Linked DNA regions of Homo sapiens: all the other regions are linked to region 1. Evidence: fine-mapped expression QTL. A gene starts in region 1. Each other region holds a variant in brackets. All regions are shown on one strand. Distances are from middle to middle.

Evidence for each region. PIP is the estimated chance that this variant, and not a neighbour inherited with it, causes the effect.
Region 2: its variant is the best candidate, but not a certain one, in a credible set for the expression of RIIAD1 in skeletal muscle (GTEx, PIP 0.88).
Region 3: its variant is the best candidate, but not a certain one, in a credible set for the expression of RIIAD1 in anterior cingulate cortex (GTEx, PIP 0.55).

Annotation. Positions count from the first base shown.
Region 1 is chr1:151,717,998-151,726,106 of GRCh38, reverse strand. It overlaps RIIAD1 (regulatory subunit of type II PKA R-subunit domain containing 1), which reads right to left and starts at 4,585. Exons shown (of 5, transcript NM_001144956.3): 1 at 4,487-4,585; 2 at 3,945-4,021. The coding sequence starts at 4,570. RefSeq lists a silencer at 4,631-4,700.
Region 2 is chr1:151,807,430-151,815,538 of GRCh38, reverse strand. RORC (RAR related orphan receptor C) reads left to right here. Exons shown (of 11, transcript NM_005060.4): 5 at 114-626; 6 at 844-965; 7 at 1,919-2,051; 8 at 2,193-2,300; 9 at 2,482-2,592; 10 at 4,105-4,214; 11 at 7,906-8,109. The coding sequence ends at 8,067. Among named protein-coding and RNA genes, the nearest start is that of LINGO4, 6.1 kb to the right of the region's middle. RefSeq lists enhancers at 98-598, 6,193-6,693. The variant C/T (reference allele first, on the strand shown) is at 3,468.
Region 3 is chr1:151,817,248-151,825,356 of GRCh38, reverse strand. It overlaps RORC (RAR related orphan receptor C), which reads left to right. Exons shown (of 11, transcript NM_005060.4): 3 at 8,077-8,109. Among named protein-coding and RNA genes, the nearest start is that of RORC, 10 kb to the left of the region's middle. RefSeq lists enhancers at 1-503, 2,273-2,772, 2,773-3,274. The variant C/T (reference allele first, on the strand shown) is at 5,019.

The DNA.
Region 1 (8,109 bases):
TCCAGATCCAGGGAAACAGCAAGAGCAAAGGCCCAGAAAGAGAAACAGTTTGTGTTCTATAGACTATGACTTCCTTGAGAGTAGGAAGTGGGTTGTAGACACCTTTCTATCTTGAGTCCAAAAGAGCACTCAAGAGGCATCTGTGCCTGAGCTCCATAGGGTCAGCAGAATGAGCAGAAATGTGGTCTGGCTTGAGTGAGGGACGCATGCAGGGAGTAGTGGGAAACAGAAGAGGTTCTATTACGGAGAGCCTTGAATGCTGGGGAGGGACATTTATACTCAATCTGAAAGACAATGGAAATAGACAAAACATGGCATAACACATGCTGGAATATTATACAGCAGTGAGAATGGAGGATCTACAAGATACGACTGAGCAAAAGGAAACAGGCACAAAAGAGCACATAGTGTAAAATTCCATTCATATAAAATACAAAAGCGCACAATAAATCCGTGCTAGTAGAAGTCAGGATACTGGCTACTGTTTTAAGGGGAGTGACTGGGAGGGGCACAAAGGATGTGAGGTGTTGGTAAGGTTCTATTTCTTCATCTGAACAATAGTACCATGTGTATTTTCACCCTCTGACAGTTCATCCAGCTTAGGATATGTCACTTTTCAGTATATTTCAATAGAATTTTTAAAAACAAACCCAAAAAAGCAACGTTGTGGAACTACTGAAGATTTTTCCAGCCAAGGAAGGACATGATTACTGCTGTATTTGTAATCCCAGCACTTTGGGAGGCCGAGGCAGGCAGATCACGAGGACAGGAGTTTGAGACCAGCCTGGCCAACATAGTGAAACCCCATCTCTACTAAAAATACAAAAAATTAGCCGGGCCTGGTGGCAGGCACCTGTAATCCCAGCTACTTGGGAGGTGGAGGCAGGAGAATAGCTTGAACTCAGGAGGTGGAGGCTGCAGTGAGCCGATATTGCGCCACTGCACTCCAGCCCAGATGACAGTGGGAGACTTCGTCTCCAAAAAAAAAAAAAAAAAAAAGGCGAGGTGCGGTGGCTCATGCCTGTAATCCCAGCACTTTGGGAGGCCCAGGCAGGTGGATCATGAGGTCAGGAGATCAAGACCATCCTGGCTAACGCAGTGAAACCCCGTCTCTACTAAAAAAAAAAAAATGCAAAATAATTAGCCGGGCGTGGTGGCGGGTGCCTATAGTCCTAGCTACTCAGGAGGCTGAGGCAGGAGAATGGCGTGAATACGGGAGGCGGAGGTTGCAGTGAGCTGAGATCGCACCACTGCACTCCAGCCTAAGCGACAGAGCGAGACTCCGTCTCAAAAAAAAAAAAAATACTTTCTACAATTTCATACCTGGCTATCTATCATATCTGCAGCACAAAACCTGAGGTTTCTGTGTACCTTAAAATAAGTCAGATTCCTACTCTTTCCATTTTTCAGGTCCAAAACTCAAGGTGTTAAGAGTTTGGTACGCTGTATTTACCAATATAGGCTGGAGAATTGTGGCTGAATGGCCATAAATCATTAGGATCTAAAAAACCCAAGTGGGGAGTTTGCTTCCCAGAAAGAACCCTTCAGAGCTTCTTTTGGCTTGGAATGTATCAACAGCAGATATCTGCAGAACAGACAAGGACAGGCACGGTGCTCAGGACTCTGCCCTCACTTCTCCCTTCTTCTTTTCTCATAGGAAGGACCATGTGAGGTGGCCAGCAGGGACAGAAGCTGATTCTGGTTCATCCCGGTACCAATCAAAGGGAACAATGACACCAAACAAACAAAAGTAAACCCTAAAACTTCAAACACTAAACCCTCTGCAAGCTCCACCCAGGAAAAGAGGTCAGAAGAATTTCAGGTAGAGTAGCTTTAGGGACAGCAAAAAGAAAAACCTGGTGGCCTACCTGGCCTTGACAGGAACATGGTAAGAAAGGAAAGGAAGTATCTGGGGCTGTTCCCACAGCAGCCAGTCTCAGATACCCAGGCTGCTCCTGGAAACTGTTCCTGGACAAAGAGAGAATCAAGGCCATCTCTGACAGGTGACTGAAACAACTCATTCTTATTCATCAACCCCAAGCATTCTAATCCTGTTGTTTGTGAGCAATGCAAATGTTGATTTAGTTTCAGCTTTTAACTTCTATCCCCAATCTCTCTGCTGGAACTACTACTAACTTGGAGAGCAAGCTCCCCAGGATAGGAACGATATCATCTTATTTCCCTTTAGAAGAAAAGTTGCAAAAGGTGACGGCCTGATCCTCAGGTCTGATATTGACAGAGGATCCCTAAACTCTCTTTTGCCCAAGGCTTATCCCTGGCCAACCTTCATAACTGGATAGGTTTCAGTTTTCTCTGTTTCCTTCCCCTATCTGCCCTCTGAGAATTTGTTGCCACTTGGAGAAACGTCTATAATATGAATAGTGAGTTTTTTTAATTTTTATTTCATGAGATAGAATCTTGCTCTGTCGCCCAGGCTGGAGTGCAGTGGCGCAATCTCGGCTCACTGCAACCTCTGCCTCCCAGGTTTAAGCGATTCTCCTGCCTCAGTCTCCCAGGTAGCTGGGATTACAGGCACGTGCCACCACGCCTGACTAATTTTTGTATTTTTAGTAGAGACAGGGTTTCCTCATGTTGGCCAGGCAGGTCTCGAACTCCTGGCCTCAAGTGATCCACCCCTCTCAGCCTCCCAAAGTGCTGGGATCACAGGCGTGAGCCAACGCATCTGCCTGGCCAACTTTTTTTTGTTTGTTTGCGATGGAGTTTTGCTCTTGTTGCCCAGGCTAGAGTGCAATGGAGCAATCCCAGCTCACTGCAACCTTTGCCTCCTGGGTTCAAGCGATTCTCCTGCCTCAGCCTCTCAAGTAGCTGGGATTACAGGCATGTGCCACCACGCCTGGCTAATTTTGTATTTTTAGTAGAGACGGGGTTTCACCATGTTGGTCAGGCTGGTCTCGAACTCCCGACCTCAGGTGATCCACCCGCCTCGGCCTCCCAAAGTGCTGGGATTACAGGCATGAGCCACCTTGCCTGACCTCGCCAACTTTTGAGAAGACAAGGGAGGGCCCACCTCTGGCTATAAGCACACAGTCCAGAGGGGAAATGGGGACCGACTGCTTACAGCACAATACAGTGGGAAAACCAGGGGTTTGAATCCTGGTTCAGCAACTTTGGGAAGGTACTTCACCTTTCTAAGCTTAAATTTTCTCACTTATAAAATAAAAATGACAATCACCTGTCTTTTGTGGAGGTGCTGGGAGGATCAGCAAAAGTGTTCCAAGATGCCACACACTGCGTGGGCACTGAGAACACAAACACACTCCACAAGCTCGGAGCTTTGGACCAGTAACAGAAGATTGACAGCTCAATTACAATACAGTGTGGTAAGTGCTAATGTAGGGGAACAGCACAATGCCTGGAGATGGGTGCCATTATAATTATTTAAACCTTGTCTATTTGTCTATAACCAAACAGCATTTGAGATAGCTCTATTGTTTTCATCCACTGATGCTCCGTGATTTATTTTTTTAATTCTCCTTCTTCATCCCATTAGGATATGTTTCCATTCAAGCAAATGCCAGGCTGAAAGGAGGGTGGGGGAAGGAAAGAACATATTCCAGGATACGCTGGTAAATTGTCTTCTCTTCCCCAAGAAAAGAGTGGCTTCCAACCCTTGGAATTTTTCTACAGTAATGTTTTCAAGTAGGGAAGGGCCAACCAGACAACTGATTTTTGTTTTAAGTTCAACTAGTGATTTTGTTAAGCTCCTATGGTTGAGAATAGTGTTCTACACCCAGTGGATGGCTGTTGGGTTTCGCAACGCCAAATTCCCTCTTCCAAGTGTCATAAGGTATGTATTTATCCTTATGGTTAAAGTAAATGAATAGACATATTTTTAAGAATTTAGAGATAACTGAAGGAAACCTCTAGAGATAACGAAGAAAACCCTGCGTGCCACAAATCCCAGAGCCTGGAAAACCACCTACCTGAAGAAACCACTTATGAGCCACTCTACTTCTTTGTGGGTCCTTAGGTACTTTTCGTTAGCAATCCGAGTCTGAATCTGGGGGGCAAGAACAAAGGGTCACTTCCATTAGGAGACAGATTCAGGGTTCAGCCCTGGAGATGTGAAGGGCTGCGGGAAACGGCGTGCGCATTTAACCCAAGTCTTTCCCCAGGATGCTTGAAAGTTTAAGCCACCCATCTTCTTACAGATAAAATATCATTCTGCCGCTTGTTCAGGATGAGGGGCCTTTACTAAGGTCGGATGTGTCTGGCAGTAATTTCGGCCCATTTCTCTGGCCGAGTCCCTGAGTTAGTTCTTCCTGCACTCTCAGATGCCCGTCGCGCTCTGTGCTGGGATCAGACGCCTAGAGGTCCGCCGGGGGTCTCCCCTGCGCCCTCCCCACTTTATCAGGGAACAGGCTCCCGCTCCCCTTCTCTCGGCGGCTCTCTTCCCAGTCTGGGGCCCCAGTCCTGGGGCAGCTACACTTTGGTGGACGCTGGATGGGGGCGCGGGCGCACCCACCTTGAATTTTCGCAGCTGCTCCAGCTGCGCTGCGCTAAGCGCCCCGGGGTCGGGCCGCTGCAGCAAGCCTGGCAGCGTCTCCATCTTGCTGCGGTCGTCAAGGCGACCGGCCGCGAGCCGGCGAGGCCCCGCCCCCGGCCCCGCCCTGCCCCCAAGCCCGGCCCCTTCAGCGAAGCAGGGGCTAGGGGCTGAGGGAACTGAGGGGTGAGCTCCGGGGCGGGGGCTTGGGGGGTGGGTCTCTAAAGGATCGCCTTTCCCGGATTGGGGGACTGATTTCTGGACTTAATTGTATGTGGAATGAGCCCTTTTTGACCCCACCCAACTTCAGGGTTTTTTTGTTAGCTCTAGAGTAAAACAGGAAAAAAGGTCTCCCCGAATCTGCTTCCAGACTCCCTCACTTGGACAGAAGCTAGAGGAAGCCTAGTACTGGGGAAAGAGAACCCAAGCTTCTTCCCTTTCCACTGTCCCAGAAGCCAACCCGTCCCTCTGTCCGGTACACATTCGACACTGGAGCCGTGGATTCTTCAAACAACGTGGAAGCACCCCAGAACATAGAGTGAGCTGAGTTCTGCAAAGGAAGGAACGTTCTGTCCGACTAAAGATGCTGGAAAGGACCTGGGGGACATTCTGCCAGAATTTCCCCCTCTTGGACTGACTTTTTTGTGTAGATTAACTTTCTCTTCACCCTGGGCTCCTCATAAATTCTAAATTATTTTATTCCACTCCCAACTGAATACGGGAGGAGAAAGGGAATTTGGTCTTCAAGATTTGTTCTTCTAGTATCTAATTAAGAAGAGAAAGTGAAACATAAAGCCAGAGAGCTGAAAATAGCCACGAGAAAGGGCATGAGCCTGTCTGTCAATACACACATGCCGAGCTCCTACCCCCACAGAGATCGTGCTCAGCAGAGGCCTTCTGAGAAGCAGGAGAAAAAAGGGAGGCTGTCTTTTCAGATTTGTGAACAACTGCCCTAAGGAGCAAGAAAATACCATGAGAAACAAGCTCAGCATTAGGCCCTGGCCGTGGAGGGGTTATCATTGGTCTGCTTCTGTCCTTTCCAGCAAAGACTGAGGAAAAGAAGTGAAAGTGTTGGCAGTTCCCAAGCCAGGGAAAACCACAAGAAGTAAATTAGGTAGTGGGCTACAAGCCACTTCCCAGGAACCCCATCTTGGTTAGTGATCATTTTGGTTGATTGTCTTTTTTTAAGAGAGAGAGTTAATAGAGTGAGAGAGAGATAAGCTGCCATCTGTCAGAAGTGATTTTTTTTTTCCCGGCAGGAGCAAGAGGTTAACCAGAGATAATGGTTCCTCTTGGCCAAGATCTGTCTTTTCTCCCCATACTCCCTCCAGAGAAGCTGGTGGTGGCACCTCCAGAGCTGTGCCAGCCAGTACAGTCACCACAAGCCACCTGTGGCTCTTGAACACTTGAAAAGTGGCTGTAGGTGTTAAATGTGCAGCAAATATAAAATACACACAGGATTTTGAAGGCTTGGTATGAAAAAAATCTCATTAATAACATGTAATTGATTTACATGTTGAAATAGTATTTTGGATATATCAGGTTAAATAACATTTATTATTAAAAGTAATTTCTCTTGTTTCTTTTTGCTTTTATATATGGCTACTAGACATTTTTAAACCATATATGTGGCTTGTATTATATTAGACAATGCCAGAGCCTGGACCAGCAAACCTACACACTCAAACACACACAGGCATGCACAGTGTTCTCTACCTCCCCACCTCCAAGTAGGAAATGATTGATACCCTCCGTCTGCCAATCTGTGATCTTCTTGTGCTTTGATAATCAATCAAGCCTTTCTTCACTGATCACATCCTATGACCCAAATGCCCATGTATGAGAGGGGCTACTTTTTGTTTTTTTAACAGCGTCTCAGTACTCACTATTATGTATTGTGTTGGCCTGTCTTACCTTCCACTTGAGGTGGAAGCCACTTGAGGGCAGGAAGGTTATAGAATCAATTCTTTGTGCACTCTCATAAATTCTGCTGCAGATGTCTTCACTCTGTATTCAATCAGGGAAGCCAGTAAGTACTTCATGACTAGCCACTCTGCCCACACATACCACCACATTTTGCCCTTTCTGAAAAATATCCCAATTATCCAGCATTTCTCATTTCCTAAGAATCTAAAGCCAGGATCAGAGCTCTCCCTTTATAAATTCAATAATCTTTTTATGTAGGGCAGCCTAGCTTTGACTGCAGAGGAATAAAAAAGAGGGTGAGCTTGGGGGTGGTGGGCAGAGAAAGTATCCTGGAAGCCTCTCTCTCTCCTAGAGAGAAACTTTCCAGAATAGGCATCTGAGTCTCAGGGCTCCCCTGCCTTTACCTCACAGGACTCCCATCCCATGGCCTGAAAGAACACCAGAGATGTGTTCACCGTCACTCAGCAAGGAGAGTCTGATGAGTGGTACAACTCTTCTCCTCTAAACCCTGCCTCTTCTCTCAGACTGACACCTTTGGGGACCACAAACTAAGCAAAGGACTGGACGCATTTTGCTGTCTGCAGCTGTCTCCCCAATTACTGACTGGGAGGAGGAGTGAGGGGAGTTCATTTTAATTCATTTTTGTGAATGTTTAATATTTCAATTAATATGATTAGCCCCAAGCCTGAATGAGCAGCAGGGCGGCAGATCTGCTGAGAAGACATAGAGTAATGAGATCAACAGGGCCATAGGGTCTTCCCCTTCTCCATCCTCAGAGGACATGATCTGTTTAGCATCTCCATAAATACCAAGATCAGATTAGAAGGCAAGGAAAGGAGCAGTGGGGGTGGGGTAGGTGAGTGGAAAGTTACTTTCAAGATGTGTGTGCCCTTCTTGATTCCCTGGCTCTGCCGTCATTCGCTTCTTCTGAGCACCCACCACTGAGTCCTCTAGCACCTCCCCCCACTGCCACCCCATCTTAGGGGACCCTACTTGGGGGACCCGGGCATCCATGTGATGAAGTGTAATCAAGTCTACACACATACACATTCACTCAAATGCAAGCACCTGCCAGAGCGTGGCTCCAGGCCACAACAAAAAAACAGGCTAAGGAAGGATGGGAGGTGGTCCACAGAATCAAGCAGTAAAAAGAAAGACTCTCTCTCATCCAGGGCTTAAATGGAGACAGAAGAGGAAGAAAGGCCAGACTTCACCACTGCTCCCATTCTCAAGAGGAATGTTTGATGTGGGAGTTAAATGCGTGGACTCAGGAGCCAGACTGCCCAGGCTCCAGTCTCAGCTAGACCTCTTTCTAGCTGCATGGCTTTAGGCAAGTTATTTCAGCTCTGTGTCTTGGTTACCTCCTCTCTATTTGGAGATGACAAAATCTACATCATAGGGGGGTGGTGAGGGTTTAGGAGTTAGTAAATATAAAGCACTTGGCACAAAGCCTGGGACACTGTAAGAGCCATGTAAGCACTGGCTGTTACTATTATTTCCCTTCCAGAAGAGAAGCCTGCCTGCCGTGATAGCTCAGGAATGGAGGCCCCTGGGACTCAGCTGGGACACAGTTTAGAGACACGAGTGCCTCTGTGGAAACAGCAGCCCTACCCCGGGGGAGAAGAAGGGAATGACAGGAAGACAGGGTGCTCTACAAAAGCCCAGAGCCCCAGGAGAGC
Region 2 (8,109 bases), 89 kb before region 1:
GTCAGCCATTCAGAGAGCAGCAAGTTAATCCTTTAATGACCAAATGCCTCCTGACCCTGCCCTGTGCCATGTTCTCCTGCCTCATAAACCCCTGGTCCCTGGACCTCTTTCAGCTGTCAAGTTCGGCCGCATGTCCAAGAAGCAGAGGGACAGCCTGCATGCAGAAGTGCAGAAACAGCTGCAGCAGCGGCAACAGCAGCAACAGGAACCAGTGGTCAAGACCCCTCCAGCAGGGGCCCAAGGAGCAGATACCCTCACCTACACCTTGGGGCTCCCAGACGGGCAGCTGCCCCTGGGCTCCTCGCCTGACCTGCCTGAGGCTTCTGCCTGTCCCCCTGGCCTCCTGAAAGCCTCAGGCTCTGGGCCCTCATATTCCAACAACTTGGCCAAGGCAGGGCTCAATGGGGCCTCATGCCACCTTGAATACAGCCCTGAGCGGGGCAAGGCTGAGGGCAGAGAGAGCTTCTATAGCACAGGCAGCCAGCTGACCCCTGACCGATGTGGACTTCGTTTTGAGGAACACAGGCATCCTGGGCTTGGGGAACTGGGACAGGGCCCAGACAGCTACGGCAGCCCCAGTTTCCGCAGCACACCGGAGGCACCCTATGCCTCCCTGACAGAGATAGGTGAGCAGCTGGGGAGGTGGAGAGGGTGGTAGAGATGAGGGAGGGGTTTCCACCAGTACCCCGTATCAATCAAACATGCGCCTGAGGGAATTGAGGGGTCCAGACGAGGGGCGGAGGGAGGAGGCGGAGCAGGATAGGCCAGGCTGAGAAGTGCCCTTGCATGGGTAGGCGTAGGAGCTGGCTGAGATCAAGCCATGCCTTCCTTCTCCGGCCCCAGAGCACCTGGTGCAGAGCGTCTGCAAGTCCTACAGGGAGACATGCCAGCTGCGGCTGGAGGACCTGCTGCGGCAGCGCTCCAACATCTTCTCCCGGGAGGAAGTGACTGGCTACCAGAGGAAGGTGAGGCCAGGAGACCTGCAGGAAGGGAACGTATCCCACCCCCACCGGGAGAGTTCAGAGATGGCTACCTGCGCACGACTGGGTCCTGGGGCAGGGCGGGACATCACAGACACAGGCTGGCCAACAAGCATGTGCACACCTTTTATGTACAGTTGCGAATGTGTGTATCTGTCTACACCCCAGCAGATGGATGAGCGCTTTTCCTTAGTTCTTGCCTATTAAAATTGTACCTGGCCTTCATCCTACCTCCTCTACCATGCAGACCTTGGTGCACCCTCCTTCCTCCTCTTCCATCAACAATAACAATAATCAGAACCCTGATTACCATTTGTTAAACACCCCTTCTCTGCCAGGCATTGTGCTAAACGCTTTATGTAAATTATCCTCAGCCCCTACCACAACCAACCTATGAGGGTGGCATTTATTCCTACTTTTAACAGACAGAAACTGAGCCTAGAGGGGTTAATAGGTTTCCTCAAAGTCACAAAGTGGTGGAACCAAAGTCAAATTCAGATTCATCAGGCTCCAAAGTTTATGCTGCCTTTTCGATCACACTCTCATACCACCTGCTCTAAACACACTCGTTTGGCACTTCACATTTGCTTCTCCAGGTTATTGAGACCTTGGGCATAACCTTTGTGGGGGAAGGGGCAGCTGTATGTCCTGTTCACCTCAACGAGATATACCTTGTTGGAGGGCAAAGCTGTATCTCATACTTTTTGGATTCCCTCACAACAGCTAACTCGGTGTCAGCAGCCGGTAGGTGCTCAGTGTGTGGGACTCACTGGCAGGAATCTGTGCATTTGTGCTAAGACCAGGCTTTTGAAAATGCTAGTTGAGAACATAGGAGTTCAGAGCCTACCCCTTGCAGTTTATTAGGTGGGGCTCCAGGGCTCAGGAGGATCACAGGGCCACACAGAGCGCTACAGCGGGACCCTCCTCCCTCCCTGCAGTCCATGTGGGAGATGTGGGAACGGTGTGCCCACCACCTCACCGAGGCCATTCAGTACGTGGTGGAGTTCGCCAAGAGGCTCTCAGGCTTTATGGAGCTCTGCCAGAATGACCAGATTGTGCTTCTCAAAGCAGGTGCCCAGGGATGGGTGGGCAGGCCTGGGGACAAGGGGACAGAGCCAAGTGGAGGGAGGTGGCTTAAGGAAATCAGGGGGACAGAGTCAGATCCTGGCTTTGCTTGACACTGTCCCTGCATCTTCTCTCCCCACTGCCCAGGAGCAATGGAAGTGGTGCTGGTTAGGATGTGCCGGGCCTACAATGCTGACAACCGCACGGTCTTTTTTGAAGGCAAATACGGTGGCATGGAGCTGTTCCGAGCCTTGGGTGAGGGGCAGGGAGAAATGAGAGGGAAGATTCTGATGCCAACCCCAGGCAAAGCTTTGTGACCCAGGGCACCCTCTTTTCAGGGCGAATTGCCCCCTCTGCTCTAAACACAATAAGGGCGGTGTCCTCGGGCACCATCGCTCCAGCCACTCTCTCACTTTTCTCATTTCCACTCCATCAGGCTGCAGCGAGCTCATCAGCTCCATCTTTGACTTCTCCCACTCCCTAAGTGCCTTGCACTTTTCCGAGGATGAGATTGCCCTCTACACAGCCCTTGTTCTCATCAATGCCCGTGAGTGTTGCTGGGCTTGGGTGAAGGACATTCAGGTGGCAGGGGCATGGCAGATATTGAAGAAGAGTCTAGACCTTCAGATGTAGTTAAATCTGGGAAATTGCTTTAAATAGCAGAATGAGCCCTACTCAGTATTGCTATAAAATAAAATGAGTTAAAATAAAGATTCAGAGGACTCTCAGAGAGGGACAAGAGCAGCATAAGGTGGGGTTGTGGGAAGTGGGGAGAAATGAGGTTGAGAGGAAATGAGCCACTTTCCTGACAGAAATGTGTCTGATTGTTAGTCTATGGCAGTGATTTCATTGTAGCACACATCAGAATCACCTGGGGAGCTTTAAAAACTATTGCTGCCTGGGTCCCACTTCCAGAGATTCCAGTGTACATGTGCTCCATGACTTATGATGGGGTTATGTCCCAATAAACCTATCGTAAGTTGAAAATATGGTAAGTTGAAATTGCATTTAACACGCCTAACTTACTGAACACCATAGCTTAGCCTAGCCTACCTTAAATGTGCTCAGAATGCTTACATTAGCCTACAGTCTGGCAAAAGCATATAACACAAAGCCTATTTTATAATAAAGTGTTGAATAGCTCATGTAATTTATTGAATATGGTTCTAAAAGTGAACAGCAGGATGGTTGCATGGGTATTCAAAGTATGGTTTCTACTGAATGCAAGTGGCTTTCTCACCAACATAAAATCAAAAAATAGTAAGTCAACTCATCATAAGACTGGGACCATCTGTAATTGATAAGGGGTGCACTGAATTTTAACAGCCACCCCCAGGCCACCAAGATTAAGAATCACTGCTCTGTGTGAACTAATTTTAAGGCTGTATGCCTATAATAGGAAGACTCTGGATATCCTATCCA[C/T]TCCCCTGGCATGGAGTAGCTGGGCTGAGCCAGATGAATACTAAATATTCAGAGAACCTAGGGAAGTGGGTCAAGCTGCTAACCTGAGTTTGCAGATCGAGACTATCAGTCTTCTGGCTCTGCCAGTGAGTGGACACCTAAATATGCCCTTCAAACTAGAAGATAAAAACTTTAAAGATGACTTCTGGATATTTTATAGAATCAGGGCAAAAGTTAGTCACAGATTGCTGCAAGCCCCCTGGTGCAGGCCTGGGCACCTTCAGGAAGGCCACCTCCTATCAGGAGCCCTTTTCGTACATGGGGGAGCTCTTTTCCAACTCTTGTTACCCCTATGACAGAATCCTAGTGCCTAGCATTGAATGAGCTATGTGGAATATCAGGTTACCAGGGAGAAGGTAGCTTGGAGTCAGGAGATCAGAAATTCTCATACCTTTCATCTCTTCCCAGTTTTCCTTGTAGACAGCTAGCCAAGCCCAACGTCCAGAGCTTACCATTATCAAACCAAGGCACACACATGCACGCGCTCAGCTTAGAAGACCTCTATCCAGCACAGATGTCCACAAAGATACACCCTTTTGTTGGGAGTTAATGTCCATGTTCTTTCTTGTTCTCATTACGGTCCCACCCCCTCCTCCAGATCGGCCAGGGCTCCAAGAGAAAAGGAAAGTAGAACAGCTGCAGTACAATCTGGAGCTGGCCTTTCATCATCATCTCTGCAAGACTCATCGCCAAAGCATCCTGGCAAAGGTAGGAGCAGTCCCTGGGGTAGAAGAGGCCAGGCCCATCGCTAGCTCTGTAACATCAGAGTTTGCGAGGGCCGGGGTCTGTGGGTACAGAGGAGGGAGTGCGGGAGTACCACTCTCTGTTAGAGAGCTTGCATCAGCAGTGGGAACTAAGGGAATGAACAGCTACTTCCACGTGCATAAAGACTGGAAAGTTAGAGGGCCTGGGATTGGGAGGGACCTCCAGGGAACAATTCAGTTTAATATAGCCAGCACTTACCCAGCACCTGCTTGTACAAGGCACTGTGGAAAGACACAGAGATTTGGTCGCTGCCCCCACCAAGAGATTTTAATCTGGTATGAAGAAGAGATCTGTGTATCACTAACTCTAACATAGAGTAGAATGTGGTATGTGATATAATAATAATGCAATTAACAGAGTGCTTTTGCTGACATGCTTTCTCATCCTCATGGCAACCCAGTCAATAGGACAGGTGTTCAAATCTCCCTGTGTAGCAGCCGGGCACAGTGGCTCACGCCTGTAATCCCAACACTTTGGGAGGCCAAGGCGGGTGGATCACCTGAGGTCAGGAGTTCGAGACCAGCCTGACTAACATGGTGAAACCCCATCTCTACTAAAAATAAAAAAAATTAGCCAGGCATGGTGGCAGGCGCCTGTAGACCCAGCTACTTGGGAGGCTGAGGCAGGATAATCGCTTGAAACCGGGAGGCAGATGTTGCAGTGAGCCAAGATTGTGCCATTGCACTCCAGCCTGGGCAACAAGAGCAAACTCTGTCTCAAAAAAAAAAAAAAAATCTCCTTGTAGCTATCAGGAGACTTCAGTGACTTAAATGCAAGATTGAATCCCAGTGCTCTTTGCGCTCTTTCTATCCCTGTGTCCCCTATGTATAACTATAATAAGTGACACCAGGAAAATGTTATGAGAGTATAAAACAGGGATTAAAAATAATTTGGGGGTAAAAGGAGTGGGTCATAAATACTTCCCAGGGAAGATGACATTTATACTAGGCCATGAATGATGTAAGATTTTAACAGGCATTCATGGGGGTGGGGCAGGCATTCCAGGCTTAGGGAACAATAGGAGCAAAACAAAAAAAATGAAAAAAAATCCTTTTCCTGAGGTTTAACCAAAAAAATGGATGAGATGAGTATGAGAGGCTGGGGATAATTGTTTTATGGGATTTGGGTGTGGGACTAGGGTACAATGAAGACCAAGAACAACAGGAGAAAAATAAGGAGGCAAAATAGTGTGTATGTGGAGAATCACTCATGGTACATCCTCACTAAAGTGTAAAATCAGGAGCTGGGATAGACTGGTGGGGCAGAAGAGCACCAGATGATCAGCCTGAAAATTAGGTCAGGGGCAAATCAGAGAGGACTTTCAATGCCATATAAGCGTTAAAGCTTTATTTCTAGGCCACAGGGAGCTCCAAAGGCTAGAAAAATGACACAATCAGAGCTGTCATTTAGGCAATTTACTTTGGAACCAGTATAAAGGAACCATTTATGTAATTATTCAAGCAGGCCTTTGCTATGTGCCAGGCACAGGGCTGGGTGTTAAGGATACAGCAATGACTTACACGGTCTGTGCTCTCAAGAACTTGAACTTTAATCTGCTACAGGATGGATTTGAAGGAGGAGAGACAGGAATCTGGGAGAGCAATTGGAAAGCACATCCGGTTGGATCTGCTTTCAAAATACATCACCTTCCCTACTATTACCACCACCCTGGCCCCTACCAGCTCTCAGCTTTCACTTGGACTTTAAGAGAGGCCTCCTAACTGAGCCCCTGTTCCACCCTCATCTGCCCTGTAGCAACCACACCTACTCCGCACCCACGGTAGCCCTTTTAAAAATGCAATCTCATCATGCCCTACTCCTGTGGTTTTTTTCTTGTTTTTGTTGTTGTTGTTTGTTTGTTCTGTTTGTTTGTTTTGAGGCAGACTTGCTCTGTCGCCCAGGCTGGAGTGCAGTGGTGTGATCTCGGCTCACTGCAACCTCCACCTCCCAGGTTCAAGCGATTGTCCTGCCTCAGCCTCCTGAGTAGCTTGGATTACAGGGATTACACGCCCGGCTAATTTTTGTATTTTTAGTAGAGACAGGGTTTCACCATGTTGGCCAGGCTGGTCTCGAACTCCTGACCTCAGGTGATCTGCCCACCTTGGCCTCCCAAAGTGTTGGGATTACAGGCGTGAACCACCACACCTGGCCTTGACTCCTGTTCTCAGCCCTCCTGTAGCTGCCTGTGATGCCGAGAATCAAATCTAGAGTCTGCGTCATGGTCAAGTGGCTCATAACATGATCCCTGCCTTCTTTTCTCACTTGATCTTCCACTGCCCCTTCAAACACCCATTGCAGCCACACTTGCTTCCTTGCTATTCCTCGAACACATCAAACCCAGTCGCAGGGCTTTTGTACCTGCTATTGTAGTCACCTGGAGGGTTCTTCCCCCAGTTTTCCAAATGGCTTACCCCATCTCTTCATTCGGGAGAGGTTTTTCCTGACCAGTAACCCCATACAAAAAGCTTTAGTTTTCTTTAAAGAACTTATTATCTGATACACTACATATTTATTTTCTGGGCCCCTCACCAGAATGTAAATTTAATCAAGGTACAGATTATACTTTATTGACTGATATATCTGATATATCACTAGAGGCCATCACAGTGCCTAGCTCAGATCCAGATGTGTTCTCAACAAATATTTGTTGAATGAATGAAGGAAGCTATTGCCATAGCCCAAAAAAGCTCAGAATAAAGCAGTGGTGAGGAAGAGAGAGAATCTAGGAGATATGAAGGGATCACACCCTGCTGCCTGCTTTTCTCTGACTGCCTCTTTCCAAGGAAACTAAGCTGGGGGAGGGAGGCAATGGCAGGCAAGAGACATTTTTAAGCCTCTTGGTTGTAGAGGAGACTGCAAGAGATAAATTGTTCTTTCAGCCTTGCTCCAGTGAGGTCTCCCTGCCTCCGTCTGCTCACTGGTTTCTGTGCCTTTTTCATCTCCCCTTTGGCTGAGTGCTGGCAGCATTGGTTTGCTACTTGCAGTGTTAGGTGCCTGCTTAGAAAGTCTGTTTAGTTCAAAGAGTTATTAAGCATGTGCCATGTGCTAAGCATTATGATAGGTACAGAGGAGACAGGGAAAGAGAGACCTCAGCCAAGGAGCTGAAATCTAGGGTGGGAAGGCAGACAAATTGGACCATTTTCCTGCAATGTAGTAAGTGCTACACAGAGGAAAGCCCAAAAGAAGGGCCCTTAATCCAGATGGGAGGCAGTTAGGGAAATAGTCTTAGGAGAGGTGACACTAGAGGGTAAGGATTAGTAATGGGAAGAGGGGAACAACATGCACAAAGGCAGAGGCATGTGACAGCATACAACAAGAGTCACAGACAATCACTCTTATAAAAGCAGGAAGTGCACATTAGAGTCTTTGACAAGGTTCATTCTAGAAGTATTGGGAACATAAATTGAGGGCTTCACCCAGAAAACATTCACCTGTGCCCCACCCACTCTCACTTCCCTCCAGTGTCCTGAACACACACGTACTTCTACCAGTGGGATTTGGCTGGTGCCAAAGTGCCAAGTACATAAGGGGAAGGCAAGGAGGGTTTGTCCTAGCCCAGGAAGAATGAGCGGACTTCTTTGCTCTGAGGAGAGCTGAAGTATTGACCCTCCCTTCCCCATTAACCCATATCCAGCTGCCACCCAAGGGGAAGCTTCGGAGCCTGTGTAGCCAGCATGTGGAAAGGCTGCAGATCTTCCAGCACCTCCACCCCATCGTGGTCCAAGCCGCTTTCCCTCCACTCTACAAGGAGCTCTTCAGCACTGAAACCGAGTCACCTGTGGGGCTGTCCAAGTGACCTGGAAGAGGGACTCCTTGCCTCTCCCTATGGCCTGCTGGC
Region 3 (8,109 bases), 99 kb before region 1:
ATGAGGACTATGTGGAATCCAGTCAGGGTGCACCCGGGCACATGCCTGCGTGTGTGTGCATGTGTGTGTGTGCGTGTGTGTGTGGGGTGTGTGTGTATGTGTGTGTGTGGTTCTCCAGGGTCAGTCACCCATTTGACCGGGGAAGCAAGGCAATGGAGATGGGATTGGAAAGACCTCGGCCTCACCCTTTTCCTGGCTTGGAGCCCTGGGCCAACAGTTGGTGGGCAGATGTCTGGGGTTCCTGTGCCTTCCAGCAGAGCAAGGGTGGGCAACCTCAGGAAGTCCCCTGTATTTGTTGTGAAGGGAAGCCAGGGAAGCCAGAGAAGCTCTCAGAGCACAAGGTGAAGGAGGAAAAGGGAAGCCCCATGCCCCTGTGGCTGAGGCCTGAAGCAGCCCCAGCTTCAACCTGGGGTCTTCCCACAAGCCACAGAAGGGAGGCCGTATTGAGTCCTGGAAAGACCCCTGGACTGACAGTGTAAGACCAGGCACTTGTGCCGCCTATCACTGGCTAGCCATATAGACTTAGACAAGCCAAGTCACTGGGCCCTGGTCTACCATCCGCAAAACAAGGGAGCTGAATTTTAAGATAGAACAACAAAACCAACTATGGAGAGTCTCCCATTCCAAAGGCCCAGGGCCAAGAGAGAGCCCAGTGCCCTAAGGCAGGCATCCCCAAGGGTGATGATGGAGACTCAGCTCTCCCAGAGGTTAGAAGGAAGGGAAACCAAGGAAAGAAAAGAATTCCACTTCTGTGACAGGGACTGAGGCCACAGTGCAGGCATATGAGCTGGGGTGGATAAGGAGGGCTGGAGAGAAGAGCCAACAGCTTCTACACAGAGGAAAGGGCCCCTTGGAGCTTCCGTTTCCCTTCTAGCTTCTCTCTATTAGCAGCAAACGCTGGCAGACTGGTCTTCCCAGAGATGGCCCCTAATGAGCAAATCAACCCTGGGATGAAATGACTAGGTGTGCTTCTAGCCCAGCAGCGGGGCAGGAGTCCCCAGGAGGGGCTGAGGGAGACACTTGGCCAGCTCTCCATTATTCCCACCCCCACCACACACACACAGCCCCACCCAGGCGGGGAAGTAGGAGAGAGGGCCTCCTCCAACGAGGGGGTCAGTGCCACTGGTCCTTCTCACTTGGACATTTACAGGTATCTCATAGCCCCAAGTTATCTGACCCCAATGAGTGCCAACCACCACCAGCCCCTCCAACCGCCGATGGCAAAAGTCAAAGCACATGGGGCTTGGGACTGTGACACACCCAGAGACCAAGGGCCCGACAAAAGGAGCAGAAACAAATCAAGAAATAAGGAGAGATGCAGAGGCCCAACTCAGAGGGCGAGTTTCTGGAACACCTAGGGAGAGAGTAATGTCCAGCTGGAGGTGTGGTTGGAGAAACACCAATAGAGCCAAACGCATGGAGGTGCAGCCGGGCGTGGTGGCTCATGCCTATAATCCCACTTCAGGAGGCTGAGGCTTGAGGCCAGGAGTTTGAGACCAGCCTGGGCAACAAAGTGAGCCGCTGTCCCTACAAAAAAAGTTTTTTTTAATTCGCTGGGCATGGTGGCGTGTACCTGTAGTCCCAGCTACTCAGGAGACTGAGGCAGGAGGATCGTTTGAGCCCAGGAGTTCAAGGCTGCAGTGAGCTATGATCAATGTCACAGCACCCTAGCTTAGGTGACAGAGCGAGACCCTGTCTCTTAAACAAACAAACAAACATGAAGGTGTGAAGCCCAGAAACAGAGCTGGAATGCAGAAGATCACAAGGCACATAGACACAGGGAGAGGCGGAGAGAAAAGATAACTGGCAGTAAAGGGAAGACAGGGAGACACAGGGTCTAGGCAAGCGGTAAGAGGGAAGTAGGGTGGCTCTGACAAGGATGGCACCAGCACCCTGCCATCCGACCTGCTGCTGTCAAGTGGAGATAATGTGTCTGTACGCCAAAGAGACTCCCAGCCAGCCAGACGGAGGGTAGCCCAGACATCTTCCCCTAAGGGCATGGCCAGCGTGGCGCCAATAGGCACTCAGGCCCTGGCATTTGGTCTGGATGGGGAGGTGGGAGGCCGAGGGGTGTGAGGTCACTGTCTATGAGCTGATCTTTCTTAGGTTTGGTCATGATCATGAGGAACAGTGGGCCAGAAAGGACTCCAAGTCCCCAGGGTACACAGATATCACCCTGAGAGCCCAGGGCCATCTTAGGACTCCGTGAAGGGCTTCTTCCTTCCTTTCATCACTCCAGCACCCTTCTCTTTCCCCGTCTTCCCATTCCTAACAGAAATACCAAACCACCGAGCCCAAGGTGCTAGACTCTGAAAAGACTCAGCTTGTCCCAGCACAATGAAAATATTCGGTCCCTACCAAGGGCTCCTCCCCATCCCCTGCCGCTGTGCTGCTGACTCAAACTAACAGGGAACAGGACTTTCCAAGGGCTAAGGTCTCTCCCAGGCGGGCAGCCCAAGGCCCGCGCTCCTGTTCCCATATAGCTAGTCCTTTCTGAAGTCTCACCTCCACGCCTGCTGCTGCAGTGCAGCCCCTTCCCTGGGGCTCTGAGGCTCAAAAAGGATGGAGATGTCTATTTCGGGGGAGGGACAGTAACAAGGCAGGGCCTCAGGGCCAGAGCCAAGGTCTTTCTGGGTCCACTACCCTCCTGGAGCAGTGAAGGTGCTCTGGGATGAGGGACAGATGGCCCTGAAGGCAGGGAAGGTGCTGATGGTGACGTCTGGGCTCCCACTCGCCAGAGCTTCCTCCTAGTGATTCATCCCCTCCCCCATTCACTGGTTGTTTTCACTCGCCTTTCTCCAGTCCCAGACTGTGGGGGTGGCGGAGGCACCAGGAGGGGGTTTCGGGTGGCTGGCTGGCTGTCATTCATGGCTTTTCAAAACCCCAGACTCTCCCTCGCCCACCTGAGTTTTAGCTTCACTATTTTCTCAGCCCCAGGATCTGGGTGTTTCAGCAGAAAATTCTCACCAGGAGCTGCGGTGAGGGCCCTGGCCTGGGCTGGGGGTAGTGTTCGCCAGGTAGAACCACTTCTCCCCCAGCCCCCACCCAGCCCTCCCGCTCCTGCTCCCCTGTGGTGGCACCCACCACCTTGGTTTCCAGCTTTGCAGAAGCTGGGGGAACTGAGAGCTGAGAAAGGAGGGAGGCTGGTGACAGGTTGGGGTGTGCAAGTGACCCCTGACCGGAGCTGTGGTCTCGGTGGGGATCGAGACAGAGAGTTCTGGCTGTGGGGAGAGGAGGAGCTCAAGCTAAGGAAAGAGATGCATTCCTCTTTCTCACTCATTCATTCATTCTGCAAAGGGAGGCATACCAAGATGTATGGAAACCTAGTCTATACCCTAAAGGGGCTGTGGTGTTCCTGAGGAGTCCCCGGGAACCCTGTTGTTGATATATAAGTCATCCCACTTGGCCTTAGAGAAAGGGGTAAGGGCAGGAGGAGGCTGGGACCTCAGAGGAAGAGTTGGGACAGAGGGAATAATATCTCTTGGGATCTTTATACAAACAGGAGTCCTGGCTTTAGTTCTGTGGGTTTCCTCTGTGAATTCTGTTCCTAGACCACCACAATCACCTCACACTTTTACCCCTACAGCCAAATAACCATGTCCTCTACCCAGGTCTCCGGTGTGCATTTGGGCGTCTTATCCTCATAAAGTATATAGCTTAAGGCTTGAGGGCACTGGCTGCAGAATTACAGAGATCTAGGTTCAAATGCCAGATCTGCCACTTCTGGCTGTGTGACCTTAGTCAAGCTGTTTATTCTCTCTAGGCCTCAGTTTTCTCATCTGTAAGATGAGGATGATACTAGCAGGGCCTATTTCACAGGGTGGTTGTGATCATTGAATGAAAATGCATGTAAAGCCTGGCACAGAGTAAGAATTCAGCCAATGCTTATGTCTATCATTATCCTTTCTCCTTAATCAGTATCCACTGGAGAAAAAGGAGAGAGAAAGAGGAGAGGAAAAGGCCCAGCTCTAGATTGACGAGGCACCAGGAGGAGATGAGGACCCCGGGGTTTCTCTGTGTGAACCCATTCTCTACCATGATGGTGGGGGGGTGGTGGTTCTGGGGTTTGAGAGGAGAGATCCCCCTGGGTTGCAGCCCCTCCCCTGCTCCTACCACTTCCTCTCTGTGGCATAGGGCACCTGGACAGGGCCCAGGGTTGGCTTCCTAAGCTGGCACAGGGCCAGGCTCTGGAAGTACTCAAAGCACTATCATTGAATCTCACAGCTGTGAGAGGCTCGATTAGAGGAGGATGGAGGACTTTGCCTCTACCGTATTTCCCCTCATAGGAGGAGCTACTAGGATGCTCCTGGGGGTACTTCAGTCTCTAAAGCAATTCAGAGGAGATTCAGTTTCTTTTTCTAGTATTGTCTCAGAATGAAGTCTTAGAGGTCACACTGGATGGCAGAAAAGATGCAAGAATGAGCTCAGGAAAAGATCGCCAACCCCAGCCCCACTCCCTGGAAGGAGCAGCCTGGCAAAAAGGCAGGAATAGGGACTAAGTTCTTGCTACTCAAAGTATAAGCTGAAGACCAGTAAGCTTAGGCACCAACTAAGAGCTGACCAAAGTGCAGAATCTTGAGTCCCACCTCAGATCCCCAGGTAATCTTGTTTGAGATGCAGAAAGCCATAGTCATTCAGTCATTAGATGACTTAAGGAGCTGGCGGGTGCATTTGGGCATTTGTCTCTCCTTTTGGAAGATGTGGAATTGGAGTTTTCTTTTGGAGAAAGCTCTCTCTCAGGAGAGAGCTACAGTGAGAGAGCTGCAGGTGAGATGCAAAGATCTTTCCAAGACAGCAGGCGAGGGTAGAGTTAGGGCTGCCATGGGAGCAGTGGTGCAGGGGCTGGTTCGAGGTTCCTGACCTTTGCTTGGCTCTAGTTCCTGGCACTGGCAGGCCCTTAGATGGTAAGTTCCTGGCAGGCCTGGCTCCAGGGCAACAGTTTGAGTAATCCTGTGATTACTCAGCTCCTTCTCCCCAATCTGAGTTCCCACCACCTGCTGCTTCAGGGACGTGTCTCC[C/T]AGGGGTAGCTTTTGAAGGTGAGTTATCATCAGAGGTGTTTTCAGCTCCTCTCACCAACCCCCAAGTCTACCAGCCCCCTTCCCGTTCTCCCCCACCCCTTCTCTACAAGTAACACACACCCTCATGTACACAGCACTGGTACTTTCTTTCTGAGGTTTGGGTGGATGGCATTGAAGGGAGTGCAGGTGGCAGGGGAAGGAGGGGGGAGCAGGACTAGAGGGCCTGAAGTGCTGAGGGGGCCATGGGTTGGGCAAAGGCCAGGATACAAGCGTGGATTTTCTGTGTTTCAGTGTTTCCGCAGCCGTCTCTCCATCCCTAGATCTATGTCTCTGTTTTTCCTGGACCCAAACCTCTTGGTCTCTCCAGCTCAGTGAGGCTAGGGGGTCTGACATTCTAGCTCAGAGTCTTTGGCCTTGTGTGTCTGTCTCACTGGGTACTTCTGTCTTGGACTGGGAGGATGGAGGATGGGCTGACCAGGTGGCTGGAGTCCAAGGCTTTGGTGTCGCCCAAACATGGGTATTTGCGAAGGGGGTCCTTGACTGGCCGCATCTTCCTATGAGAAGGTCAAGGTCTTGGTGACACTGTTGTGAGGTTCCTAGGGCCAGGAGAAGCAGTGGGTCAAGCATGGGGCAGGGAGATGTGTCTGGGGTCACCATGTGGTCAGCACACACACGCACGCGGATGTGGCTCTTGGAGAAGGGAAGAGGCAGGGAGGCCTGTGGTTGACTGCTGGGCCAGAGCCCGAGTTCCCACTGCGGCTTGGCCTAATCTCCCTCCCGCTTACTTTTTTGGGTGGCCCACGTTGGTTTCTCCCATCTCTGGTCTTAGGCCACTGAAAAGAGAGATGCCACAGTGTTGGAGGGGGAGGTGTTGGGCAAGAACAGAGTCCACAGGGCCCGAGTGCTCCTCTCAGCCTTGCCAGGCCCACTGGTCTTCTCAGCCTGACCTCTGCTCAGGAGTAACTTGAATACACAGTGCTTTCCATTGGTGATATCATTTCATTACTCTCTGTTACCTACAATCACCCCATGGACAGGCAATAATACTTTTATCCTGATCTTGCTGACAAGAAAACGTAGGTCTAGAGGGAGAATCTAAGTGACTAGAAGTATGGGGGCCCCAACGTTTTCTGCCCCTGTTCCAGACACCCAGTGCCCTCTTATTCTCTCTTCCCCTCCATGTATTAAAATCTGCTCTTAATTTACTGGAAAGAACCTGGAAAACTCACTTACCGCCTGGTCCTGGGGGGACCACAGCTTACAGTGTGAGCACTGGAAGCTTGCTGCTGGGCAGGCACGTGTGGCTGGGGGTTGGGTGAGGAATTGAGTGCTAATGAAGGGATTTCAGATACCCATGTGCCCTGTCCCCGTCAGGGTCAGCTACTGCCTCTGACTCACCTCAAGTCTGGCCTGAGGGATGATGGTTTAAGAATGATGGAAATAATATTTTGGGGAATGGCGGGCAAGCCATGGTCTCCCTGCCCACTTCACATCAACAGGCCCTACATGTGACCAGTGTCCAGGCCAGGGACTGGAGGTGAGATCACAGCAATGTGCATTCGCCCTCCAGAGAGGCTGCCACTTCTTTTGCCCCTTTGGTGGGAGACACGTCATAGATTAAAAGGGGCTTTGGCCCTTCTCTTCACTTTTCTGGCCTGTCCCGCCCCAGGGCTCCCCACTCAGAGGGGAGGCAGCAGGTCAGTGATGGTGGAAAAGAGACCCATGTGCTCTGGGAAATGCTAAAAACACCTACAGTAACCAGGGATCCCAAGCTTTGCCCAGCTACCTTTCAAGGAAGAGCTGGGAGAAGGCCTCCTGTGGTCCCATGAAGCTCAGCAGAGAGTCGTGGGCATTGACAGGAACAGGGCAAAGCAGAGATGAGCTTAGGGCCAGCAGCAAACCACAGGGGTAGGGAAGCAGGTACAGGTTACAGTGAGTTCAGTGGGAGAGAGAACCCGGGGTCCTAGTGCCCCATGAGCAGACACTAACATACAAATATGCACGTGTGGACGCAGGAGCAACCAGATATGTCGTAGGCTCACAAATGACACATACTTTTCTTGCATATGCACACCCACAAGCACACCTTCAAACATGCCCACTGAAATGTGTACCCGAAAAGACAGGTACACAGAACAGCATAATGGAAAGCTCAGGGGAACTGGGATGTAGATCCAGCTCTCAGGCAAACTAGCCTATGACCCTGGCCCAACCGCTTTGCCTCATCTGGCTTAGTCCTTCATCGGTAAATGAAGAGGTTGAATGAGATGGTCTCTAGTCTCAGCCATTTTTAACATTGATGATTCATGTTCACACAAATGGATACAGATGCCTTTGTACAAACATAAGTGTTCACACTCAGACACACGGATGTACACAAAGCCACCCTCTCTCTGCTCTGGGGCCAAGAGCCTAAGAGCCCTGGCTAATTCTTTCCCTAGGCTCTCAGGCATCCAGCAGAGCTGGGGTGTTGAGCCCCCGTTTCCTGGGTTCCTCCCTGCCACCCCCTCACCCTGTCTCTGTATAGCACCTCCCTGAGCCTTCACTGTCTGGCTGGGAAGGACTGGCATCTCTGCCTATCCCCCACCCCTTGTGTACCACATCTTCCTGCTATACCCTACACTTTGCCCATGGGAGCTGAGCCCCAGCGAGGGAGGGAGGCACAGAGGAAGCCCCTTCGGCGGGAAGCAGGTGTTGTGAGGCCGTGAGGAGTCCTATGTCCCAAGGCGGGAGGGAGGCAACTGGAGCTTTTCAACTCGAAGGGCTGAGCAGGTGGCCCCTCTGCAGCTGCTTTCTCTGCCTCCATAGCACTGATACAACTCCCGGCCACCCCTCCACACTCCCCTCCTCTGTGAAACAAACACAGCTTCCTCACACCCTTTGCTGAGAAGCATTTGGCATTTCACTTCCCCTTCCATTTTGCAAGAGGGAAACAGCAAGCTGGAGCTGGTTGGAGAAGTAGTGGAAGCACCAGGTACCTGTATCTGCAGCCCAGGTACATGGTGGTTGAATGCAGAAAAGCCTCCTGGGCTGACCTACTTCTCTTTCTCTCTTCCAGCACAAATTGAAGTGATCCCTTGCAAAATCTGTG